Homo sapiens: one gene and its partners. The protein of the gene in region 6 purifies or fractionates together with the protein of the main gene of each other region. This does not show direct contact. Each region holds a gene or a part of one and is shown on either strand. Other genes may lie near its edges.

What was found.
Region 1: the proteins of MYSM1 (region 6) and ARF3 purify together in Homo sapiens (affinity purification with mass spectrometry, with the first as the bait; one large-scale study listed by BioGRID). This does not show direct contact.
Region 2: the proteins of MYSM1 (region 6) and ELAVL1 purify together in Homo sapiens (affinity purification with mass spectrometry, with the first as the bait; one large-scale study listed by BioGRID). This does not show direct contact.
Region 3: the proteins of MYSM1 (region 6) and CIP2A purify together in Homo sapiens (affinity purification with mass spectrometry, with the first as the bait; one large-scale study listed by BioGRID). This does not show direct contact.
Region 4: the proteins of MYSM1 (region 6) and ATP2A2 purify together in Homo sapiens (affinity purification with mass spectrometry, with the first as the bait; one large-scale study listed by BioGRID). This does not show direct contact.
Region 5: the proteins of MYSM1 (region 6) and PON2 purify together in Homo sapiens (affinity purification with mass spectrometry, with the first as the bait; one large-scale study listed by BioGRID). This does not show direct contact.
Region 7: the proteins of MYSM1 (region 6) and OGDH purify together in Homo sapiens (affinity purification with mass spectrometry, with the first as the bait; one large-scale study listed by BioGRID). This does not show direct contact.

The regions. Positions count from the first base shown.
Region 1 is NC_000012.12:48,943,988-48,947,487, reverse strand, and holds part of ARF3 (ADP-ribosylation factor 3), read left to right. Parts: intron 1-3,500.
Region 2 is NC_000019.10:7,964,142-7,967,641, reverse strand, and holds part of ELAVL1 (ELAV-like protein 1), read left to right. Parts: coding exon 1-77; intron 78-3,500. UniProt on the Homo sapiens protein: RNA-binding protein that binds to the 3'-UTR region of mRNAs and increases their stability.
Region 3 is NC_000003.12:108,558,439-108,561,938, forward strand, and holds part of CIP2A (protein CIP2A), read right to left. Parts: intron 2,404-3,500; coding exon 2,211-2,403; intron 1,591-2,210; coding exon 1,516-1,590; intron 1,430-1,515; coding exon 1,319-1,429; intron 1-1,318.
Region 4 is NC_000012.12:110,340,247-110,343,746, forward strand, and holds part of ATP2A2 (sarcoplasmic/endoplasmic reticulum calcium ATPase 2), read left to right. Parts: intron 1-412; coding exon 413-748; intron 749-1,981; coding exon 1,982-2,202; intron 2,203-2,985; coding exon 2,986-3,188; intron 3,189-3,500.
Region 5 is NC_000007.14:95,404,362-95,407,695, forward strand, and holds the end of PON2 (serum paraoxonase/arylesterase 2), read right to left. Parts: intron 2,708-3,334; coding exon 2,626-2,707; intron 1,887-2,625; coding exon 1,758-1,886; intron 1,128-1,757; coding exon 969-1,127; 3' UTR 501-968; downstream 1-500. UniProt on the Homo sapiens protein: Capable of hydrolyzing lactones and a number of aromatic carboxylic acid esters. Has antioxidant activity. Is not associated with high density lipoprotein.
Region 6 is NC_000001.11:58,658,563-58,662,062, forward strand, and holds part of MYSM1 (deubiquitinase MYSM1), read right to left. Parts: intron 2,950-3,500; coding exon 2,844-2,949; intron 2,666-2,843; coding exon 2,608-2,665; intron 1,594-2,607; coding exon 1,435-1,593; 3' UTR 1-1,434. UniProt on the Homo sapiens protein: Metalloprotease with deubiquitinase activity that plays important regulator roles in hematopoietic stem cell function, blood cell production and immune response.
Region 7 is NC_000007.14:44,697,127-44,700,626, reverse strand, and holds part of OGDH (2-oxoglutarate dehydrogenase complex component E1 isoform 1 precursor), read right to left. Parts: intron 3,258-3,500; coding exon 3,130-3,257; intron 3,024-3,129; coding exon 2,845-3,023; intron 2,436-2,844; coding exon 2,364-2,435; intron 487-2,363; coding exon 358-486; intron 1-357. UniProt on the Homo sapiens protein: 2-oxoglutarate dehydrogenase (E1o) component of the 2-oxoglutarate dehydrogenase complex (OGDHC). Participates in the first step, rate limiting for the overall conversion of 2-oxoglutarate to succinyl-CoA and CO(2) catalyzed by the whole OGDHC.

The DNA of each region.
Region 1 (3,500 bases), on a different chromosome or scaffold from region 6:
AAAAATGCAAAAAATTAGCCAGGTGTGGTGGCATGCGCCTGTAGTCCCATCTACTCGGGAGGCTGAGGCAGGAGAATCGCTTGAACTTGGGAGGCGGAGGTTGCAGTGAGCCGAGATTGCGCCACTGCACCCCAGCCTGGGCGAGAGAGCGAGATTGTCTCAAAAAAAAAAAAAAAAAAAAAGTTTGATGAATGGATGAAAGCTGGTATCAGAAGCTATTTCTTAACTTTGGGAAATCTTTAAGTCTAGTCGAAATAGTTCAGATATCATCTAGGAGTTCTTATGTTCTGATTTCAGTGCTCTTGAGACAAAAACTTGGAGTTTACACAGGTCACGAGCCAGCTGCACCAAGAAAACTCAGTACGGGCGTACTCTGCTTTTGTTTCTTTAAATTGTATTGGTCTGTTTGGTTAGCTGTGCTAAAAATAGCATCTCTTAGTGATATTTCAATTTGAAAATTATCTAAGAACAAAGCTGTTTTTACTGCACTCTGCCTGGCAGCAGAGGGTTTGGGAGACCCTGGTCTTCCTTCCCCTGGACGCTGAAGAGGAGGAGGTAGTGCCAGATCAGGAGTCCCCTCAGAGGTGTCTCATAGCACATTCTTGGATCATTCACTGGAATCAGGTAGAGGGAGTATGTGTGGCCGACTGGGATGTGTGACTCTCAAAAGCACCTGGAGATTGAGGCAGGCACGTTCCTGCAACATATGTAAGGAAAGATGGCTGAGTAGCCAGTTACAGCAACAGCCTGCTTCTCCTGGGGGGATGAGGTGGGAGCAGTGAGTTGTCCTCAAGTGAGGATATCCTTAGATGAGGCTTAAATCAACTGATGTGCTTAACTGAATTCCTACAGTGTCCCACACAGATTGTACTAGAGCACATATTTGGGTTCCTATTGTTATTTTTACCTGTGATAATAAAGTTTCTGACTGTAAAACAGAACCTGCAGATATCTTTTTAACAGAGATGTTAGTATATTCCATTTTTCATCTTGAGCCACTCACTTTCAGTCTTAACTGCTTATTCTTGGTATCCAACAGCCAATGGAACCCTGGCATTTTGCCCTATAAACACAGGAGTACCATCTGTGGTGAAAGAGAGTAACTATAGGCTATATAATACATGGAGAAACAATTCATGGTTTGTTTGCTTTGCCATTCTGCTTCCTAGTGCTTTTTTAGGAATGTATTGTGAAAGTGAGAATAGGCTGTATAGCCAGAGATTTGTATTCATGGCACAAAGCAGAAAGCTGCTACCATCTTGGTGGTAGGGCAGCATGCTCTCTGGTATTAGCAAGGGACAGGGAAAACCAAGACAAGAAAGCCAGCATCCCCTTTGAAATGCTCATTTAAGTCAAGCTCCAGATTATACTTAAAGAAAAGTCATGGCCAGACGTGGTGGGTCGTGCCTGTAATCCCAGCACTTCAGGAGGCCAAGGCAGGTGGATTGCTTGAGGCCAGGAGTTTGAGACCAGCCTGGCCAGCATGGCAAAACCCCGTCTCTACTAAAAATATAAAAATTAGCAAGGCATGGTGGCACATGCCTGTAATCCCAGCTACTCGGGAGGCTGAGGCACAAGAATCACTTGAACTTGGGAGGCAGAAGTTGCAGTGAGCAACCTCTGCCTCTGCACTCCAGCCTGGGTGACAGAGCGAGACTGTCTCAAAAAAAATAAATAAATAAAGAGGAGGAGTCATAACATCCATTAGTTTCAAGGTCCTGGGCTGTGCCAGGGAGATACATGATAGCTACTGGATATTTATTTTTTGAGATGGAGTCTCAGTGTTACACAGGCTGGAGTGCAGTGGCGTGATCTCGGCTCACTGCAACCTCTGCTTCCTGGGTTCAAGCGATTCTCCTGCCTGAGCCTCTGGAGTAGCTGGTGCTACAAGCATGTACCACCACGCCCAGCTAATTTTTTTTTTTGAGACAGAGTCTTGCTGTTGTCTGCCCGGGCTGGAGTGTGATGGCATGATATCGACTCGCTGCAACCTCCACCTCCCAGGTTCCAGCAATTCTCCTGCCTCAGCCTCCCGAGTAGCCACCACACCCGGCTAATTTTTTTGTATTTTTAGCAGAGACAGGGTTTCACTGTATTAGCCAGGATGGTCTCGATCTCCTGACCTCGTGTTCCGCCCGCCTTGGCCTCCCAGAGTGCTGGGATTACAGGTGTGAGCCACCGCACCCGGCCAATTTTTGGGTTTTTAATAGAGACGGGGTTTCACCATGTTGGCCAGGCTGGTCTCGAACTCCTGACCTCAGGTGATCCACCCACCTCAGCCTCCCAAAGTGCTGGGATTACAGGCGTGAGCCACTGTGCCCGGCCTTTTTTTTTTTTTTTTTTTTTTAAGACAGAGTCTTCCTCTGTCAACCAGGCTGGAGTGCCAGCGGCATGATCTCAGCTCACTGTAACCTCTGCCTCCTGGATTCCAGCGGTTCTCCTGCCTCGGCTTCCTGAGTACAGGCGCGCACCACCATGCCCAGCTAATTTTTATATTTTTAATAGAGATGGGGCTTCACCATGTTGGCCAGGCTGGTGTCAAACTCCCAGCCTCAGGTGATACGCCCACCTCAGCCTCCCAAAGTGCTGGGATTACAGGCATGAGCCACCATGCCTGGCCAGCTATTTAGATATTTTATCAGTTATTCATCAGTCCCACTGTATATTAAATGGCAAGAGAGAATCCCACCAATTCTAGTCTTCTAGTCCTTTTATGTTGTTCCCAAACCAGTCCTGCGTCAAATATGTGTGGAAAATGGCTGAGAATGGACAGGATAGCTAAGCAACTCGCTGTGCATTACACAGAGATACCAAATCCTACTGGACAGAAGAAATAATATAAGGACATCCTCAGATGAGGCTTAAATCAGCCAATGTGCTTAATTGAACTCCCACAATCTACTTGGCACTAGAGGGAGGACAGATTCAAAATAAGTAGACATAGTCTTTGCACATAGGGAATACACAGCTTAACGTGGGAAGCAGTAAATACACAGACTTATAAAAGAAGAAAAACTCGACAAGGTAGTAAGTGCCACATTGAGTGGTTAAGGTCATTCAAAGTAAGGCCTTGATGTGGCATGCCAGGAAATAATAGGTGTAACACTGGGATCAGCTTTTGAACCAGGACTTCAGCATGACAGCCGAGCAAAGAAGCAAATCAAAGGACAGTGTACCTGTGTTCTGGGGCAAGGCATATTGGCTAGTTATATCTTTTTCAGCCACCACTATACTCACAGTTGGTAAGCATTTAATCAGCAATAGTTTCAGTCATAAAGGACAGCAAGATAAATGTGTGGCATAAATTTAATTCAGAATCTGGGCCAAAGCCTGATACCAAACCTTTAAAGCAAAGTGTCATCTGGAGCTGAAGGAAAGGCTGCCTGAGCAAGAGGCAGAATAAAGGCTAGAAGACTAGGAAGACTTGGGAAAGGTTTAAATTTCATGAGGTGTTAGTAGTATGACCAAAAGTCACTACTACAAATTGCCAAGGTTGGTGA
Region 2 (3,500 bases), on a different chromosome or scaffold from region 6:
GCACTCCTCTCGCAGCTGTACCACTCGCCAGCGCGACGGTTCGGAGGCCCCGTTCACCACCAGGCGCAGAGATTCAGGTGGGTCGGGAGGGTGCGCGCTCCTGAAAGCCATACTTAGCCCCGCTGGCAGGCGACGGCACAGCCACAGAATAGAAACCACGGGGATGATAGACTGATCCCGTCAGAGAGCGCGTTTCAGAATCATTCTGCAGCTCCACACCACAACCTCCATCAGAAAGGTGTCTGTAGGAAAGCCGTTTACTTCCGATTGGGCGTTGTCTTTCATGGGAATCAAAACAGTGACTCCAGGCTGGACACAGTGACTTATCCCTGTAATCCTAGCACCTTGGGTGGCTGAGAGAGGAAGATCGATTGAGCCCAGGAGTTCAAGACCAACCTGGGCAATATTGCGAGACCCCATCTCTACAAAAAATACAAAGCTGGCCAGGCATGGCGGTGCGCTCCTGTAGTTGCAGCAACTCAGGAAGCTGAGGTGGGAGGATTGCTTGAGCCCAGGAGGTTGAGGCTGCAGTGAGTTGTGATCATACCACTGCACTCCAGCCTGGGCCACAGGGCCAGAACCTGTCTTTTTTTGTTTTTATTAAAAAAAAAAAAAAGACAGCACCAGTCCCCACCAGTTGCTGTGAGCGTGAGCACTTAGAGCTTCAGCACGCAGTTCCTAGTAACAGCAGAACGGAGCCGCGAGCTTTAAAGATGGTTTCATGCCCAGTGTGGGGGAGCACACACCTGTAATCTCAGCTCTCAGGAGGCCGAGTTAGGAGGATTACTTGAAGCCCCGAGTTTGAGCAGCCTGGGCAACAAAGTGAGACCCCTGTTCCTACAAAAAGTAATGAAAAAAACTGGGCATGGTGATGCTGGCCTTTAGTCCCAGCTACTCAGGAGGCCATGGTGGGAGGATCGCTTGAACCCAGGAGGTGGAGGCTGCAGTGAACTATGATTGCACCACTGCACTGCAGCCTGGGTGATAGAGTGAGACCCTTTCTCTAAAAAATAAATGAATAATGAACGTCTCATATCTGTGGGAGAAAAGATGCTGCCTTAGGTATACTCGGGTGAGAGTAGATCTTCCAGCATTCTTAGACATTTGATCAGCAGCCCTAAGGCAAACCTTTTTCAAACACCTGCCTCGTGGAGTCATTTGTATTGGTGAATGTTGTATGTATGCATTCTGTTTATAAGCCCTGTCCTAGAGGGGAGGAGTTTTCCCGGATTCCTTAGTCTTTCCATCCTGAAAATGGTTCTGGCTGCCAGGATGAAGTGGGATAGAGGCGATGAGAGTCAGGGCCTTGGACTCCAGGATGTGGTGTGCTGTCGCCTCAGAAACAGCAGAGGTCTCAGTGTCAGGGCTGTTTTGTTTTTGTCAAAACCTCAAGGAGTGGCATCGAGGGCTTATCTCAGGTATGACAAGGATAGATTTCCCTTTTTTTTTTAATTTTTAATGTTTTTATTTTTTGTTGAGATGGGGTCTCACTGTGTTGCCCAGGCTGGTCTTAAACTCCTAGCCTCAAGTGATCCTCCTACCTCAGCCTCCCAACGTACTGGGATTATAGGCGTGAGCCCGGCCCCATCGTTGTTTTAACAGTGAAGCTGGGTGGGCGCTGCCCAGTGCCACACATGCTGCTGTGAGAGGTGTTATTCTCATGGCTGAGTTACCCAGCATTCTCAGCCTGGCTCAAATTCCAAAGCTGGCCTGCCTTCCTTGAGGTTTCTGGCTTGAAGACAAGGCTGGGGAAGCTTCTCTGGACGGAATGGAGCTGAATTTTAAAATCCAGCTCTAGAAATCCCATCATACAGTCGGTCCTGCTCTTGATGGGGCGGGCTATATGGGCGGTGGGGTTGGGTGAACTGCTCCTTAGCCTGGAAGGAAAACAGGGAAGGTTGGAGGAGACATGGGACTCTGGTCCCAGTAATGAGGACAAGAAAAGAAAGGGGAAACCGGAGAAGTGGACATTTCTGGTCGAGCAGGAAAAGTGAGTGGCAGGGCAACCACTAAGACAAAGTGATGGAAGGAAGTGGGGAGGGCGGGAGAGTCTGGAGGGAAAGATTCGCTCAGGAGGCTGAGAGAAGAGGAGGAAGAAAGACCCAGACTGCAGTGAGTTTGCAGTCAGTCCCTATCACGTCCAGAAAAGCCCAGAGATAAGGGATGGAAAAGAATTGGGTTGGAGGAAGAGAGGAGAAGATTTATGACTGTCAAGACCAGAGAAATCAGCAGGAGAAAAACTACCAACAAGAGTAATTCCTAAGAAGGCCGGGCGCATTGACTCACGCCTGTAATCCCAACGCTTTGGGAGGCCAAAGCAGGAGGATCACTTGAGCCCAGGAATTTGAGACCAGCCTGGACAACATAGACCCTTTCTTCTTAGTCTTTCCATCCTGAAAATGGTTTTACAAAAAATGTAAAAATTAGCCAGCATGGTGGCACACACCTGTGGTCCAGCTGCTCAGGAGGCAGGAGGATCACTTGAGCCTAAGAGTTTGAGACCATACTGGACAACATAGTGAGACCCTCTCTCAAAAATAAAGAAAATCACCGTTGGGCTAGTGAGCTGCCCCATGGCAGCTGGTGTCCTCTCGTGTCTGTCGAGAGGGTGAATCTGTTTAACAGCGCTTGAAGGCACTCGTTTACCCCGGCTGGGGCCTGCAGGGCTGCGCTTGGCTGATAGGGCCATAGCCTGAAGCCCAGTTTTATTTTGGAGCAGGTAATGCTTCTCTGCATGCATCACGCAGCTTCACAGATGCCGGCTTCACAAATGTATGCTACTCAGATATTCCCAAACTGACCCTCAGACCTTTACTTTTTTAATGTGAGAAAGTTCCAGAGGGAAACATAGCTTTAGGAACTGTTTTGTCATATACCTTAATCCTTATTACAGCATCTGTACATTTTCAGAAGGCTTTATTTTATTTTAGTTTAGTTTAGTTTTTGTTTTCTGAGGTTTTTGTTTTTTTCCTAGAGATGGGGTCTCTCTGTGTTGCCCAGGCTGGTCTCAAACTCCTGGCCTCAAGTGATCCTCCCACCTTGGCCTCTCAAAGTCCTGGGATTCCGTGCTTGAGCCACCATGCCTGGCCCAGAAAGGCTTATTTTTTATGTAAATAAAAGTATCACTGTGGAAAGAGCCCCACGTGTGTGGTCAAGTTTGGTGAGCCTGCCGTTGCTGGTGTCCCAGGGCCCTTCCCTGTCCCTTGAGTTCTCAGTCCTCAGTGGTTTGGCCCCTGACCCTCAGGGGATGTTGAGCTCTAGCCACAGAGGGTTGGTTGCCTGGTGCTTGGGAAGGAATTCTTGTGCCCTACAAGTGGCCCTGGCAAAGGCGTGCTCTAACCAGAGACCACTGGGCTGTCAACGCTTGGGGGCGGGTCATGATAAGGGGAAGGTGCAAAATTTGGAAAAAGGAGTTCAGCCCCTGCACGTACCCCACAGTACGAGGAGAGTTTCCTCCAGGGAGAACTGAGGCTGTCAGAGGCCTGCAGAGCATTTCTACC
Region 3 (3,500 bases), on a different chromosome or scaffold from region 6:
CAGTAAGTTCACTCTTAAGGTATACATTATATATGTACATAATACAATGCCAAATTTACTGAGCACCTATTATGTGCCAAGTGCTATGCTAGGGCCTGGAGCTATAGAAGCAGTCTTTGATACCATGAGTGAGGGAAAAAAGAATTTCCACGTGGTTTGAAAAATGTTATTAAGAGATAAGCGTAGGTTTGATACACAGAGGAAGGATCGTCAAACACGTGTGGGAAGGAGACCAGAGTAGGCTTCTGGGTAATGAGGATATTTTAACTGAAATCTGAAGGATTATGAGTTAGGCAGAAGAGAGGAAATGGTGTTCCAGACATGGAAAGTCAAGTGCCACGACAAGGAAATACGAGAATATGTCAAGTTTCAGAAAAAGCAAAGTGGCCTAACATGGCTGACTGCAAAGAATGCGCAGAAATGAAAGATGTGGATTGAGGCCTATATAGTTAGAATCCTTATATGCCAAACTAAAGAATTTTAATGATATTTGAAAGCAATAGCAGCTACTGTGAAAGATACTCAGCACAAGAGGGACAGGATCATTTTACTGCCTTAGAGATCCTTGGGGGAGCGGCTAGGTGAAGGGGGTAGAACCAAGGAAAGATGACTGGCTGTAGAGTATCTGAGAAGAGGGTAGAAGACTACAGGTAGGAAGACTAATTGCTCTGCTATGATTCATACAAAAAATGAAAAGGATCCAGCCTATAACAAATAGTGGTAGAAGCAGAGATAGGGCAGAAAAGAGTAATATTTAGAAGGTAGAATCAACTGGACTTGGTGAATAATTATAGGAGGTAAAAACTGTGATTTCCAGGGTTCTTATTTGTAGAACACTAAAAACAGAAGAGGGAATACATAAGAATAATTTTAAAAAGGGAAGGGTGATTAGTTCATTATTGGTTATGCTGAGTTTGTGGTATTTGCTGTATATTTAAATGGAGCAACATAGGCACATAGTGCTCAGGAAAATGATCTGTGCTTGACATATAAAATTAGGAACATTACTATTTTGGTAACCATTGAAACCACAGAACACATAACTAAAGGAAAAAGGTTTAGAATATAAGTCCCAGAGTCCCCAACACTTAAAGGTACAAAATAAATAACATAGGAAAATAATACAAGGTAGCAAAAAAAAATCAGGTAACGATGTAACCAAAATTAAAGAGGACAGAATTTCAGGAAGAAGGAAGGAGGCATGTCAAATGCTAAGGAGAATTTACTTCAATTAGAGTAACAAATACATAACTAATATTTTGCATGTTTTACTTATTAATTTTTCTACAAATCAGATGTGTCTTTATATTCTACACACCTCTGTTTCAGCTTGAGTTCTTTGACAGCGATGCTGAGCAATCAGTCTATCAGCCTGTGCAAGGGCTAGAGCTTTTGTTTCCAAAAGATCTTGTAGCCTGCTTTCTTTGGACTACAAGAAAACATATCATTAATTTTCATTTTAGGAATACATCTATTAAAGCTTATTACACATTGTTAAAATAAGCTTATACTCACAGCTAATGTGGATAGTTTCATTTCATATACATCCATTATGTCAGATATTCTCACATCACAAATCTGATCCTTTACCTACATTTTAAGAGTAAAAAAACTTAAAATTTTAATAAAATATTTTGACACAATGACAAAATAAATGCCTACTTCAAAACTAAATCATTAAAACTTAATGATGAGTAACAAAATAAAAACAAATGCTACATCAGGTAAGTCACAAATATTTCTTTTTTTTTTTTGAGATGGGTCTCACTGTCACCCAGGTTGGAGTGAAGTGGTATGATCTTGGCTCACTGCAACCTCTGCCTCCTGGGTTCAAGTGATTCTCCTGCCTCAGCCTTCAGAGTAGCTGAGACAACAGGCATGAGCCAACACGTCCAGCTAATTTTTTGTATTTTTAATAGAGACGGGGTTTCGCCATATTGCCCAAGCTGGTCTTGAACTCCTCAGCTCTGGCAATCTACCCTCCTTGGCCTCCCAAAATGCTGGGATTACAGGCGTAAGCCACCGCACCCGGCAAAATGTTGAAATTTTGACTGATTTTTCTTATTTCCAAATTTTCCAGAATATTGTTATTTCTTATATTAAGGTTTCAATAGTGAAATCTGTACCTGACAGTGTTTAGATACACGTTATAATTGGGACTGACATATAGCTAATATGTACCAGGTTATAATTGCTATTTTTTCACTCACCACCATTCCAGACTGAAGTTTCTCTATTAATTCTTCAATATTCAATCCAGGAACACCATCTTTCAAATGAGGAGTTAAACACTTTATTGATGTTGGAAAACTGTGATTTGATGATTGCCAGGGCATTTTTCTGGGTATATGTTCTGTTTCCTGTTGTCTATAGGCATTGTTTGCTGCTATACTTTCTCCAAGTCTGAATGGGAGTCAAAGAAAGGAAAAAAAAATTATACGAAAATAGAAGAAAAGGCAGACTTAGTGCAGAATTAGGGAATTTTTAAGAATGGGTCCTTTTTTTGAATAGAAGTCTTCAAATAATCTTGGAGACCATGATGAAATGAAGTCTTGGGAAATATTCTGAATTTTCCAGAGCACCCACTTTTCTGTTTCTAACCTTTTATAATGACAGCTTCACCTCTGGTTTGGAGGCATTGTAAGACTAGTTTATGAGTGTGGATTATCTGTAATAAGTACAAAGTTATTGGTACTGGTCAGAATAATGTTCTTATCATGGGTGATATCACCTGGCCTTTACGTCCTTAGTCCTTTTCCTTTCTCACTCAGTACATACTTTTCACCAACCTGACTTCCATTCTAACCCTTTAAAATCCTCTCTTTCTCCTACCTCAGGCCTTCATATGAGCTGTTCCTTTATCTGGAACACGCTTTCTACCACAAAACAAAATATTTTTTTCACTTATCTCTTAACTAAAGTGCAAACTGCAAGATGGCAGGCACTCAGCCTAATTTATTATAGGCTGGGCATGGTGGCTCACACCTGTAACCGCAGCACTTTGGGAGGATCACTTGAGTCCAAGAGTTCGAGACAAGCCTGGGCAACCTGGTGAGACCCCTCTATAAAAAAATAAATTAATTAAGCAGTTGTGGTGGCACAAGCCTGTGGTCCCCGCTACTCAGGGGGTTGAGTTGGGAATATCACTTGAGCCCCAGAGGTCGAAGCTGCAGTGAGTCATGATCACACCACTGCACCCCAGTCTGGGTGATAGAGTGAGACCCTGTCTCGAAAACAAACAAGTAAATACACACACACAAAAACCCTACCTACCAATGCATCCATAATATACATTCAGTTTATTAAACGCCCAAGATAATGTCAAATAAGGGCATTAAATAGTAAGCATAAAATGGACATCTGAGATAATGCCCAAAGAGAAAATTATTTACAACACAAATAAGACAGGGAATGCCAAGACACAGTCAAAATGGTGGGAAGGCCTCACACACAGAGGCAGAGGATAAGACTTCCATGTTCAGTGAGGCTGCAGATTCCCC
Region 4 (3,500 bases), on a different chromosome or scaffold from region 6:
GCAAAAACCGCCAGGCACGGTGGCTCAAATGCCTGTAATCTCAGCACTTTGGGAGGCCGAGGCTGGCAGATCACCTGGGGTTGGGGGTTTGAGACCAGCCTGACCAACATGGAGAAACCACATCTCTACTAAAAATACAAAATTAGCCAGGTGTGGTGGCGCATACCTGTAGTCCCAGCTACCCTGGAGGCTGAGGCAGAAGAGTCTCTTGAACCTGGGAGGCGGAGGTCGCAGTGAGCTGAGATTGCGCCATGGCACTCCAGCCTGGGCAACAAGAGCGAAACTCCGCCTCAAAAAAAAAAAAAGAAAAAAAATGCAGAAACCTGTCTCAATGTTTAACTGGGCATTTTTCAAACTAGGGGACAAAAACTAGAACTTGCCACTTTTATTTAAAGTGATGCTCTTATTTTAGACCAATCTGACCTTCGTTGGCTGCGTGGGCATGCTGGATCCTCCGAGAATCGAGGTGGCCTCCTCCGTGAAGCTGTGCCGGCAAGCAGGCATCCGGGTCATCATGATCACTGGGGACAACAAGGGCACTGCTGTGGCCATCTGTCGCCGCATCGGCATCTTCGGGCAGGATGAGGACGTGACGTCAAAAGCTTTCACAGGCCGGGAGTTTGATGAACTCAACCCCTCCGCCCAGCGAGACGCCTGCCTGAACGCCCGCTGTTTTGCTCGAGTTGAACCCTCCCACAAGTCTAAAATCGTAGAATTTCTTCAGTCTTTTGATGAGATTACAGCTATGGTGAGCATGTTTGAACATGTACAGGTGACTCAGGCTACACAAGCACATAGTAGCCTCTAATTTTGACCACTGAATTTTTTTGTCATAGCTCCCTAATTTGGAATTTGTCATGATTTGGGTCTTTTCTCTAGAATTCGGTGAATCAGTGGTTAGCATGTTGTGTGCTACTTGCAGGGAAGATCCTAGAGTCGTTTAAAACCCAGAAGGGCCTTCCAGATCAGTCCCAGAGGAACAATCTGGTGATCTAGTCTCTTTTTTAAATGAGACGTGTTTTTATTGTAAGTTTTCTGAAAATTGAGGATGTAATCAGTCAGTTGTTTGGATCACCCTGCTTTTAAGTTCTTTAAGAGCTGGCTATTGATGAAGCATTTCCAGTATTCTTCCCCTCACCTGATTTTCACCCAGATACATTATGTTAAATTTACTTTCTTCTCTTTTAAAAAAAAATCTTAGTTTTGAAACATACTATAAGTGTACTCTCCTCTCCCCCAGAGGTAACTGAAGTTGGAATTTAGCAAAAATATTAAAAACATGGGAGTGCTGTTTTTGTGTCTGTAGACAGTATTATTTTTGCATGCTTTTGAAGGCATATTTTTTGGCCGAGTGCAGTGGCTCATGCCTGTAACCCCAACACTTGGGAGGCCGAGGCAGGTGAATCACTTGGGGTCAGGAGTTCAAGACCAGCCTGGCCAACATGGTGAAACCCCGTCTGTACTAAAAATACAAAAAATTGCTGGGTGTGGTGGTGGGCGCCTGTAATCCCAGCTACTCGGGAGATTGAGGCAGGAGAATCGCTTGAACCCAGGAGGCGTGCAGTGAGCCGAGACTGCGCCACTGCACTACAGCCTGGGCGACAGAGCGGGACTCCATCTCAGAAAAATAAAAATTTGCATATTTTTGCAATCTGCATCTTTCTACTTGAAATTTATCCATGTGGATACAAGTGCTTCCTCTTGACTGCCACATAGGTTGTGTTTTTGTTTTTAGTAAGATAATACAGATAAATTTGAAGTCCCCTTTGTCCCACTTCGGTAAACTTATTTGGTAATTTTACATTTCCTAGGTAAAATGTGTTTTGTGACACCAACTTATGAAACAAAAATTCTAAAACTCTTTGCCAAGAGACCTACGGCTCTATTCATTTTCCTCCTGCTTCCCATTCAGTGGGCTTTTGCCTAGGGGTATGAATGTGGCATGCCAGTTGGCTGACCCAACCATTGCTTTCCCTTTCAGACTGGCGATGGCGTGAACGATGCTCCTGCTCTGAAGAAAGCCGAGATTGGCATTGCTATGGGCTCTGGCACTGCGGTGGCTAAAACCGCCTCTGAGATGGTCCTGGCGGATGACAACTTCTCCACCATTGTGGCTGCCGTTGAGGAGGGGCGGGCAATCTACAACAACATGAAACAGTTCATCCGCTACCTCATCTCGTCCAACGTCGGGGAAGTTGTCTGGTAGGTCTCTGTGACAGCATCACTTACTGTACGCCTTTATCTAAATGGGTCATGGAGCCCAGTTCTCGCAGTTTGCTCTCCAGATTGCAGCAGCTTTGGTCTTTGTGCCTGAGTTGGAAGAGGGGAGTGGGCAAGACAGAAATGCCTTATGGAAGCAGTGGTGCTTTGGCCCTCGGGAGGGTTGTCTGCAGCTGCCCCAATGTGCAAAGAATCCTCTTTAACGTGAGACTGAGCTAACATTAACCAGGTAGTCACATGAAATTCTTGCCCTCCAAAAGTTGGCTTTATCTCAGTCAGCTTAATAATTTTTTTATTTTTATTTATTTTTTTGAGACAGTCTCGCTGTCGCCCAGGCTTCGGGCAGTGGCACGATCTCAGCTCACTGTCCCCTCCACCTCCTGGGTTCAAGCCTCCCGAACAGCTGGGATTACAGGCATGCGCCACCACTCCCTGCCATTTTTTTGTGTTTTAGTAGAAATGAGGTTTCACCATGTTGCCCAGGCTGGTCTCTTAACTGCTGAGCTCAGCCAGTCTGCCCACCTTGGCTTCCCAAAGTGCTGGGATTACAGGCATAAGCCACCGCACCTGGCCTCAGTCATCTGAATTTAAGTAATAAACTAAGTAAAATTGAGCTTTAATTCAAAATTGGGTATAAGTATTTTACAGATTACCTGAAGTTGTTGTCATTTATTTTTCTGGAGGAGGGCGGGTTGATGATGCTCTTTAAATAGTGGCCAGAAGTCATTTGGGCTCTCTTTGTCTTCTTTTCTTGATTGGAAACAGTATTTTCCTGACAGCAGCCCTTGGATTTCCCGAGGCTTTGATTCCTGTTCAGCTGCTCTGGGTCAATCTGGTGACAGATGGCCTGCCTGCCACTGCACTGGGGTTCAACCCTCCTGATCTGGACATCATGAATAAACCTCCCCGGAACCCAAAGGAACCATTGATCAGCGGGTGGCTCTTTTTCCGTTACTTGGCTATTGGCTGTGAGTACAATTTTTTTATATTACTGATTTTTAAACAAAATGTTTGTGAGCTGAAATTTTGTAAATTCATCCCTTAAAAGCGTGTTTTTTCTTCTATCCCCGTATAGGGTAGCAAAAGACAGAGATGCCCTCTTACAGTTCGATGAACTATACATCCAATTTACCAGAGTCCTTTCACAGTTAGTTCCAGTTTTAGCATCCTGCCCTTACTTGGGCTTTTCTGAATGAGCAATTAAACATCAGGGTTTTCAGATTGAGCCCTCTGTGCAAAGGGATAAGAATGATTCACGCTAGGTTCTGCCTTCCAAGAGT
Region 5 (3,334 bases), on a different chromosome or scaffold from region 6:
AGTAAAGTGGTTTGATAAATTACAATGGAAAGAAACACATGAAAGTCTCTCTCTAGGGCTTATGATGATTTTATAGGAGGTACAGTGAGCAGAAAAACTCTCCCTCTGTGAGCTGGGCACGCGGCCCTGATCCTAGCATTGCTGCTGCTTAACCATGTGGTCACGGACGACTGACTTCATTCTCCTGGCTTTAGTTCACAGTTCTGTTCAATGAGGAGGTGGCAAGACCTTCCTGTCCCAACCCTTATTTCCTCTTTGTCTCTAAAGTGGACTCCCATTAAGGAAGAGAGCTGATGGAAACCTCCTTAGGAACTGGGAATTTGAGTTGCAATATTTCATTGATTTTTGTTGTTGTTGTTTCAAATTAAGAGTCCATTCACTTTCAGCTTTCCACAAGAGAAATTAATATGGCCATGCTTGCCTATCCAAACTCCATAAGGAAGCAGCTGCTTTCCCATTTCTCCTAGCCATATGCCTTCAGAATTAAACACAGACAAAACTGGGATTTTAGTTAGTCTTTAATATAACTCCAACTTTTTAATGGTAAACAAAGATGTAAGTACAAAACATCAAAATACGTTATCAGTAGTTCTAAACAGCCATAGTAGTCACAGTGCCAGAAGTGAGGTCACTCACATTTTAAGGAAATATAATTCACTCTATTTCAGTGGAATCCATGTTCTGGCAGTTGGAAGGCAAAGGTGAGGCTTACTTTGTGCAAAATGTATTCACTTTATTCGAAAGCAGCTTTCTTTTCTGTCCCTTGCTTGGCATTTTAAAGAACCTGTTCATTTTCCTTTTTTGTTAAAAGTGCTCTAAGAACTAAAAGGGCCGTTCCTTACTGGAATAAAATTAACTACACATGCCATACATTTCTGGGTCAATGTTGCTGGTTAAATTCCCTCAGAATTAGCAATTCATAGAAAATTAATTGTTAAGTTATCGCACTTTCATGCCAAAAGTACAATTTAGAGTTCACAATACAAGGCTCTGTGGTATAAAGTGCCTATGAGCAGCTTCCCATCATACACTGAGGCTACAGAACTTCCTTGGAGAACAGACCCATTGTTGGCATAAACTGTAGTCACTGTAGGCTTCTCAGATAGAATGTTCTGGATGCGGAGAACCTATTCAGGGGATACAAAGTATGAATATAAGACCACCGTACATGCATGTCACTCAATCATCAATAAGCCCTGTTTTCCACAATGACACACTGATTAAGGGGACATGCTGTTGAAAATAGCAGTTACCAATCTTTTTAATGTTTAAATTAAAGTACTTTCTCCAATCTTCAAAGAAAGTACTTTCTTAAAACCATCTAGTTATTCCATGCCAACACAGGATTTAGTGTTATTATAGCAATTCAGCTTTAATAGAAATACTTTCATACTAATGTGCCTACTTTCACACTACTTCAACATGAACAAATATCACATCATGTGGTGAGCTGACAATAAATCAGATATTTTAAAAATTGCCAGTATACCACCCAAGAAGGGCACATGTCTTTATAAAAATGCCTTTTGACTAGTTTCCACCATAATTTAATACATCAAAAGATTACCTTTCTTAAAGTATTTGAACAATGTAACATTCTGCCAATTATTGGCTTAACGCAATTACAAAACCACGACATAAGCTTATTATATTATTGCTTTAAAATAACTAAACAAATCATCCCTGTGACAATTTATTGTATTATTAGTTCAAAAGGACTTGAATAATTAAGTTTAAAAAACTGAAAATATAAAAACCTCTGACGAGGGAGGATTGTTCGGGTCATACACGAAGAGCTTCTGGCCATTAGGATGACAGCCTACCCAGATGTCCCCCGAGGAAGGATCAATAGATAAATTATCCACCAGTGTATCCAGCTCAAGTACCTTCCAAATGAGAAATTGTCAAAATCTAAATGACATGAGAAACTTGATTAAATAATTTAGAGGTAACCTTCCTGCCTCTATGCATGTGAGGAAATTACACATCGCCCTGCTTCCACCTTCTAACACCAATATTGCTTAAAAGGAATGTATTAAAAACTGGTTTGGAGCCACTTTTCTTCTTCCCTGAAATTAAGAAAGTTAGGGTGATAATCGGTCTCTGTAAAAATCTATCTTAAAAACTGAACTCCTTTTCCTTTAAAAGATGCACAATGATCAGTTAGCTCAAGGAACTCAATCAAAGCAAGATAGGAAATTCTTAATCAACCTAAAATATGTGTTGTTGAGTAGGAAGAAAATAATAATGGTGTGGAACCCAATTTCTACCTTCATGTATTATTGAAAGAACTGACACTGTGCATAAACCTTCATTTGAGAATTCATCTATTAGTATTTTCAATTGTGAAAATTCTTATTGGAATTCTTCCACTGCCATCAATACTTCATGGAATGGGCCCTAAATCTGATGAATATCACTCTCAACCTGCTGCTGCATGTAATCATGGTCAGTTCTTGAGATCGCTGGAAACAGGAGCTTTCTCTAGTTGTAGGGAGTATTTAAAAACCCAGAATAGCTACACTGGCATCCATATTTTGTTCTACGTGTGGTACTCTTATAGAAAAACTATGTCATTGCAAAGCATAATAGATTACTGTCTATATGTAAAAATAAATATTTTACCTTCAACTGAGTTAAATTCATATTAGTGTGTTTTTCCAAAACATGAATTTCATGAGCCAATATGTCAGCAACATAGATATACCTTTGCAGAAAGGACACAGTGGTTAGAGCTCCATGCCAATATAAAGCTTCATTAATACAGTGTGAAAGAATAAGTCTTAATAACCTGCCAAGAAGTTAATCAATCATGGGCCCTCAAGGAATGCTTGATAAAGGTCAATTTTTATTTAAAAAGTAAGCTTTCAGAATCAATTCAGTGGTGCTACAACAATCATGGAATTATTAAATTGTTTTTCAAAAAGCTTGTAAGGAAAAATAATATAGAACATCATTTTGAATATGAAGTCCATATTTGCCACTGAAATGACAATAAAACAAATGCTTGGCTTCAGAAGAAAAGCTTTTACATTCCACAATATAATTTGATACTTCTAATTATCATGTACATATAGAAATATATGGTAAAGAACATCTTATTAAAATAGTGATCATTCCTTAATATTCAATAAAATATTTATTAATACATAGCGAATTTTAAGAGTAAGAGATAAGTATCAATGCAGAATAATCTGTCTACTTCAAAGGTGAGTGAATTAACAGACTATTTTGAGGTAATTTTACTCATTGAATTGACTTTCCATGGCACCTGCTCTGTTGAGCAATTATGTGTGAAAAGCCATGAACTCAGTGTTGCAGCAGATATAAACAT
Region 6 (3,500 bases):
CTTCTTCCAATACTCCTTATTCTTCATTGGCTATTGATTACAAACAAAGCAAAATATAGAATCAATCTGATTTAGATATAAGGAAACGTTAGTAAGAATGTTTGGTGAATAGCTATAAATCAATTCTCTGACTACTAAGAAATAAACTAAAATCTACTGAATTTCAATAAATGAGGCAGCATTGACTGCTTATTTTATTTTAAAATTGGCTTAAATGCAGATCATAATTCTGAGTTTTGGTGTCATTTGAAGATGACGTAAAGCTTAACAAATGTAAAACAAAATTCTAATGTTTAAAATTCTCTAGATCAAGGGTTGGAGAATAATAGCCAACAGCCTATGTTTTATGAGGCCTGTGAGTTAACAATGGTTTTTATCATTTTAAAGGGCTGTAAAACACACACACACACACACACACACACACACACACACAAAGAAGAATGTCTCATAGACATCATATGTGGCCTGAAAAGCCAAAATTATTTACAAACTGGCCCTTTACATTAAAAAAGTTCACTGACCTCCATTATAGATTCAGAAAGCATATGAAACTGGGCTGAATATGTAACATGTCCTGAAAGGCTTGTTTTAAAAATTAAATCTCTGATTTATTCCAGCTTTATTATCATTTGCCTCTTTCTCCTAGTAGTAGGCAGTAGAAAAAAAGTTTGAGTTATGATTACCTATGTTCCAGTTAAATGAGGTTTTATCACACCTACTAATGTAAGTGGACTCACAATTGAAGCTAATTATTTTATGTGTGTAAAATTGGTTAAAAATTTTCAGATAGCTGAGAAAATGGCATATCTTATGATACTACTGCTATACAATGAAATGGAAGATAGTATCTATGATTAGAAACTGGTAATTTAGTTCTCTCCTTTGGGTTTTTCCTGTTTTTAAGATTTTCTTGTCATGCCTCTCCTGGTCTCCTGTTAGATTTATTAATCAGTAGTTCTAAACCATATTAATTATCTCAGTGACCACCCATCCATATCTCATTTATAGCCATAAACAAATCTCAGCAGAATATATGGAAAGAATGGAAGTGCTTTTAAATGAAATAGGAGATACCACAATGGAACATAAATGACTAGTTCAGGGAAGAAATGACTTAGAGACATAGTCCAAATCCCAAGCTGAACACAACAGTAAAGCCGACCAGGTTGCTTAGTTTCACAGCCTACAGCATTGCTCAGTAAAGGACTAGAACACCGTGGTGGACCCTGGTTTGCAGAACACTCTGATAATCACTATATGAAAACAAATTTGTATCTCTTCCTTTTCACATGATTTATGTGGCAAAGTTTGGATTTTGTGAAATAGAGAAAAAATACCAAAGCTGTGCCAATGTTAACTACAATCACTTCAAGTTTATAACTTTGAAAGTAAGATCTACTGTGTCAAGATTAAAATGTCTTAACTTTAAAATAATCACATTAACAATTCCTTTGTACAGTTCTCTTCGGTTACTCCATTCTCTTGGTTGCTTTTATAATTGGAAAGGAACAAATTTTCTATTTCAGTCAAGAATTCTTCAGCCATAAAGCAATTGGTCACTTTGCTCAGAGTCTTCCTCATACACTCCAAAAGCTAGTTGAAAAGAAAAGTTTTATATTTAAATACAGAAAAAGTATGAGGGTTTGCATTACTATCACTATTTCGTCCCTTTCCAGACCTCACATTTCCTAATGCTCAAATGAGAAACACTCTCCTTAAAAATGGTTGAAGATTAACTTGTGTTTAATAGTCACAGAGCTGGAATGTAGGAAATTGCTGCTGAGGAACACTCAGCTTAGTACTTTTATGATTTTACATAAGGAGACAAACCTGAGATTGTTTATGTGATGCTTTCTACTTCGGACGTATTTGCGACTTTTCTCCATTTGTAGTTACACTTACAAAGCAAAATAATCCTGAGTATACACACACACAAAAATCTAGGTACATAAAAACATAGGATTCTGCATTTCAAAATGAGGATGCTAGCTGGAGTCTATTTCCTTGGAAATGTGCACATACTTTTTCAACAACACACAAAAAACTGGATATAACAGAAAGGAGTAAAACATATTAAAAAGAAACTTAATGTTTAAATTTTCTATCCCCAATTGCTATTTAAAAAGACAAATGTTGCAGATCTACTAGCCTTCAATCATTACAGAAGCAAAACCTAGACGTGAACTGACAGAATTCAAAACTCTTATTTCCTATTAGAAAGTTAAATAAAATGACTATTTAAATTTAATTGTTAGATTTATACCATCATTCTTAAAAATGACCAATTGTTAAGGCTAAAATGGAAACATGGCACTTTCAAATTTAATAAAATAAGAAAAATGTTCTCCATTGTGTATAATAATAATCTGCTAAAATCAGCCAACACTGACAAATTTATTCTAAAATAGAATTTTTTCTATGTGCAAGCTTGGGCAACAAAAAACGTTACTAATTATCTCCTAGAAATTAATTTTCCAAAGGAAAAAGTAATAAAAGAAATATACAGAAAATTATCCACAAAGTATTAGGCATCATGGGAAAACACATTGAGATGAATAGCTTCAGAATCTGTGAACAATGGAACCAATTAAAATGAAGACAGCTTACTTTCTGCAAACAAGTCAGGTCAGAATCCCGGCGAAAGATTTTATCCATGGGGACGCTGCTGTAGGAAGAAATATGAAAACAAACTGGTGAAACGAATACTATAAACTAATCAGTTTCATAATAAACTATCACGGATGCCATACATCACAATTTTATATTTAACTTGGGTTTTCTCTGAAACATAATTTAATGAGCAACACTGCAGATGTGCAACCATCTCAAACCACAGTACATACCTATGGGAGAGCCTGTATTTTTCTATTATCCATCTTGTCTTTTCAAATACTAATCCCCACTGAGGTTCTTCTAACATCTGCTGTACTTCAAATTTGTAAGGTAAGCCTAGAAAAGCATAAAGAAGCACATTGTCATCAACTATTTCTTAACTCTCCAATCTCCTTTTAATTATACTTAAAATTCCCTTCGGTGTTTTTACAGCCATAGCTTTGCAGATCAGCTGAACAGCACTTTAAACATAGTGGGCATTCATTAAATATTTATTGCCCGATTGTACTTGGTCCACTAAGCATATTAATGCCAAGCTATTAATAATAATAATGAGTAAAAGTGCCATTTACATGACAATTCTACGCATGGCACTATGATGGGATGATCACGTAATTTATCACCTAAACCAAGAGACTTTTTGAATGAAAGAAGGTACTATTAATAATTATGCCTGAACCGCAGGTTTAAAGTGGGATTATCCTAGACAAACTAAGACATATTGCCATCCTAGTGATAATTAAAAATATATATATATACAGGTTATTAAGCTTACAACAATGCTGTAAGTTATTGTTTTTTTTTTAACAGGTGAGAAAACTGAAGCTGAGATACATTAAAAATCATATTTAGGCTAGCAAAGTGGCAGGACACAGATGTTAAAACCC
Region 7 (3,500 bases), on a different chromosome or scaffold from region 6:
CTTGGCCTCTGCCAGGGCTCACCTCTCTTCCAGAGCTCAGCACACCCCCTATGACCACCTGTTCAAACATCCGTCCTCCCCACCGGGCTGGGGCCTGCAGCCTATGTGATTGCTCCGCATGTGGTGCTCAGCAGTATGCAGGGGCCCAGTCGGGGAAGAGGACACACAGAACACGCAGTTCCCTCATGGCAGCAGTGAGGAGGAAGGGCGAGGCTCCCTGACACCATGTCCTGTCCACACTACCCCTGCAGGTGCCCACCTAGCTAACCCCAAGCAAGAGGCTCTCTGAGGAGCCCTTCCCTGCACCAACAGGGCAGGGCCAGGCCTCGTTTGAGCAAGGGAGGCCCTGCCACTGACCGGCTTCCGGAATGGCAGCAGGATCTGGCGTCGTAGCACGTGGAAGAAGTTGCCAGGAGTGGAGCAGTTGACAACAACCCAATTGCAGTCATATAGCTGATTGATGTCGAAGTTGGCTTCTTTAAGGTCCTGCAGCAGGGAAGGAAATGGCCAGAGGCCAGGACACAGCACTGAGTCTTCTGGGGCATGTGGGGGCCCTCAGGTGATCTAGTTTGGATATTTGTCCCTGCCCAAATCTCATGTTGAATTGTAATCTCCCACTGCTGGAGGTGGGGCCTGGTGGGAGGTGTTAGGATTAGAGCTTGGGCCATCCCCTTGGTGATGAGTGAGCTCTCACTCTGAGTTCACACGAGATCTGGTTGTTGAAAGTGTGTGGCCCCTCTCCCCCACTCTCTTACTCCTGCTCTGGCCATGTGACATGCCTGCTCTCCCACTTCATCTTCTGTCATGATTGTAAGCTTCCTGAGGCCTCCCCAGAAGCTGAGCAGATGCCAGCATCATGCTTCCTGTACAGCCTACAGAACTGTGAGCCAATTAAACTTTTCTTTATAAATTACCCAGTCTCAGGTTTTTCTTTATAGCAACACAAGAATGGCCTAACACACTGACTCCCCAGGAGACATAAGCTGACACTAACAAGTGAGTCCAGCAAGCTCCTTCGGCCAGCCTCATACCCTGGAGGAGAGCCTCAGTCCCACTCAATCCATACTATTTCTCTGAAAGCTATTGCCCAGCATGAAACAAATACCACTTTAAGAGACACAAGTTCTACCTAAAACCAATTTTCCTTAGACACTGACACCTAATCATTTTCTTTGAGTTTTTTTTTTTTTTTTTTTTTTTTGAGACAGGAGTCTCCCTCTGTCGCCTAGGCTGGAGTGCAGTGGCGCAATCTTGGCTCACTGCAACCTCCACCTCCCGGGTTCAAGCGATTCTCTGCCTCAGCCTCCTGAGTAGTTGGGACTACAGGTGCCCGCCACCACGCCTGAATAATTTTTGTATTTTTAGTAGAGACGGGGTTTCACTATATTGGCCAGGGTGGTCTCAAACTCCTGGCCTCGTGATCCACCTGCCTGGGCCTCCAAAGTGTTGAGCTTACAGGCGTGAGCCACTGCGCCTGGCCAGTTCTTTTTTTGTGAGACGGAGCTGCCCAGGCTGGAGTGCAGCGGCACAATCTTGGCTCACTGCAACCTCTGCTTCCCGGGTTTAAGCAATTCTCCTGCCTCAGCCTCAGACTAGCTGGGATTACAGGTGGGCGCCACCATGCCCAGCTAGTTTTTGTATTTTTAGTAAAGACAGGGTTTCACCATATTGGCCAGGCTGGTCTCAAACTCCTGACCTCATGATCCGCCTGCCTGGGCCTCCCAAAGTGCTGGGATTTCAGGCTTGAGCCACCACACCCAGCACAGTTCTTTTTTTTTTTTTTTTTAAGACAGGGTATTGCTCTGTCACCCAGGTTGGAGTGCAGTGGCACGATCTTGGCTCACTGCAGCCTTGACCTCCCAAGCTCAAGCAATCCTCCCACCTCAGCCTCCCAAGTAGCTGGGACTGCAGGCGTGCACCATCACGCCCAGCTACTTTTTAAAATTTTTGTAGAGACGGGGTCTCACCATGTTGCCCAGGCTGGTTCTTTGAGTTCTTAAAGTTTCACTGGAATCGCCCCAAAGTTCTCTCCTCCTCAGGGCTTCCAGACCTGAATCAGGGTCTGGAAGCATCCCGCAGGAGCCCTTGCTGAGGAGCTCACATGGCGTTTCTGTGCTTGCAGCAACAGCAGGAAGCCAATGGAGGCAGTCCCTGCACCTTCCTCTGTGCTCTGAGGAAGTCTCTCATCCCAGGGCGCCCAGAAGCATGGGGCCACACCTGTCCACTCACGTGAGCTCCCCAGGATGGAGAAAGGGACAGAGGCACGGTCTGCCACTTCAGGATGACCAGATAGATTGCTCTTCCCCAGGTTTCCCACCAGACACCCCGAGAATGGCTGGGCTGACAGGGCCTGTATTACTCACTGGCAGGACATCTGGGTCATCGTTGCACATCTGCAAGAACCGCTCTGGGCGGGCGGAGGAATGTTCTGGACCCTGGAACCACACACGCAAGTTACAGTTTAAGAGCTCTTGCGTACTGACATTTGCCGCATCTGCTGTTCCTCCTCAACCAACTAGCTCATTTCTGGTTATCTTTTTTCTTGATGGCAGGGTTCAGTTCCTTCCCCCTCCCACCAGCAAAGCACTTGGCTCATCATTTCCACACTTGGACGCCTGTGCATCTAGGGAGTCTGCACCAGCAGGGACGGGGCATGCTAGCCACATCCAGATGGGCTACTCTGGCTTTCTGAAGTGACATCCCATCTGAGATGGATGGGAAGCACCAGCAGAGTCCTTAGGAGGCTGGTGTGAGCCACTGGCTCTCGTGCCAGTCTTTGGGGTCAGGGTCCTACACAGGCCCTTCCCAAGTCCTAGGTCTGGCAGGGAAGGGCCAGAGGCTCACCATGCCCTCCATGCCATGGGGCAGCAGCAACACGATGCCATTCTGCCGCACCCACTTGGCTTGTCCCGGGCAGATGAACTGGTCGATGATACACTGGGCCGTGTTGTGGAAGTCACCAAATTGGGCTTCCCAGAGGACCAGGGCATTAGGACTGGCCATGGCGAAGCCCAGCTCAAAGCCTACAAGGGACAAAGGAAGGAGAAAACCATGTCCAGGACACCAGCCAGTAGGCCCAGCGGGGGTGGGTGGGTGACAGGCCCTGGTGGTGTGGCTCCAGGCACTCACCCAGCACGCCGTACTCAGACAGTGAGCTGTTGCACACAGTATAGGGGGCCTGATTGGGCCAGAGATGGTTCATGGGGATGCAGGTTCTCTTGTCCACATTCTGGTCATGGAGCACATGGTGGCGGTGGCTGAGACAGGACAACAGAGGTAATAATTAGGAGCTCTGACTTGACAAGCAAATACGCTGGGGACCCGCACGAAGCACCAGCAGATGCCATGCTCTGTGACCTGGACTTCTGGCCAGGCAGCTGCAGGGTCGGCCCCACCCAGGTCTTAACAGAAGCACCCATAGCAAATGAGGGACAGAGGTTTTCAGCCTGAGAGCAATGTGACTCTTCCGGTTTCTAACCGTCTTCCGGAAAAGAAACACC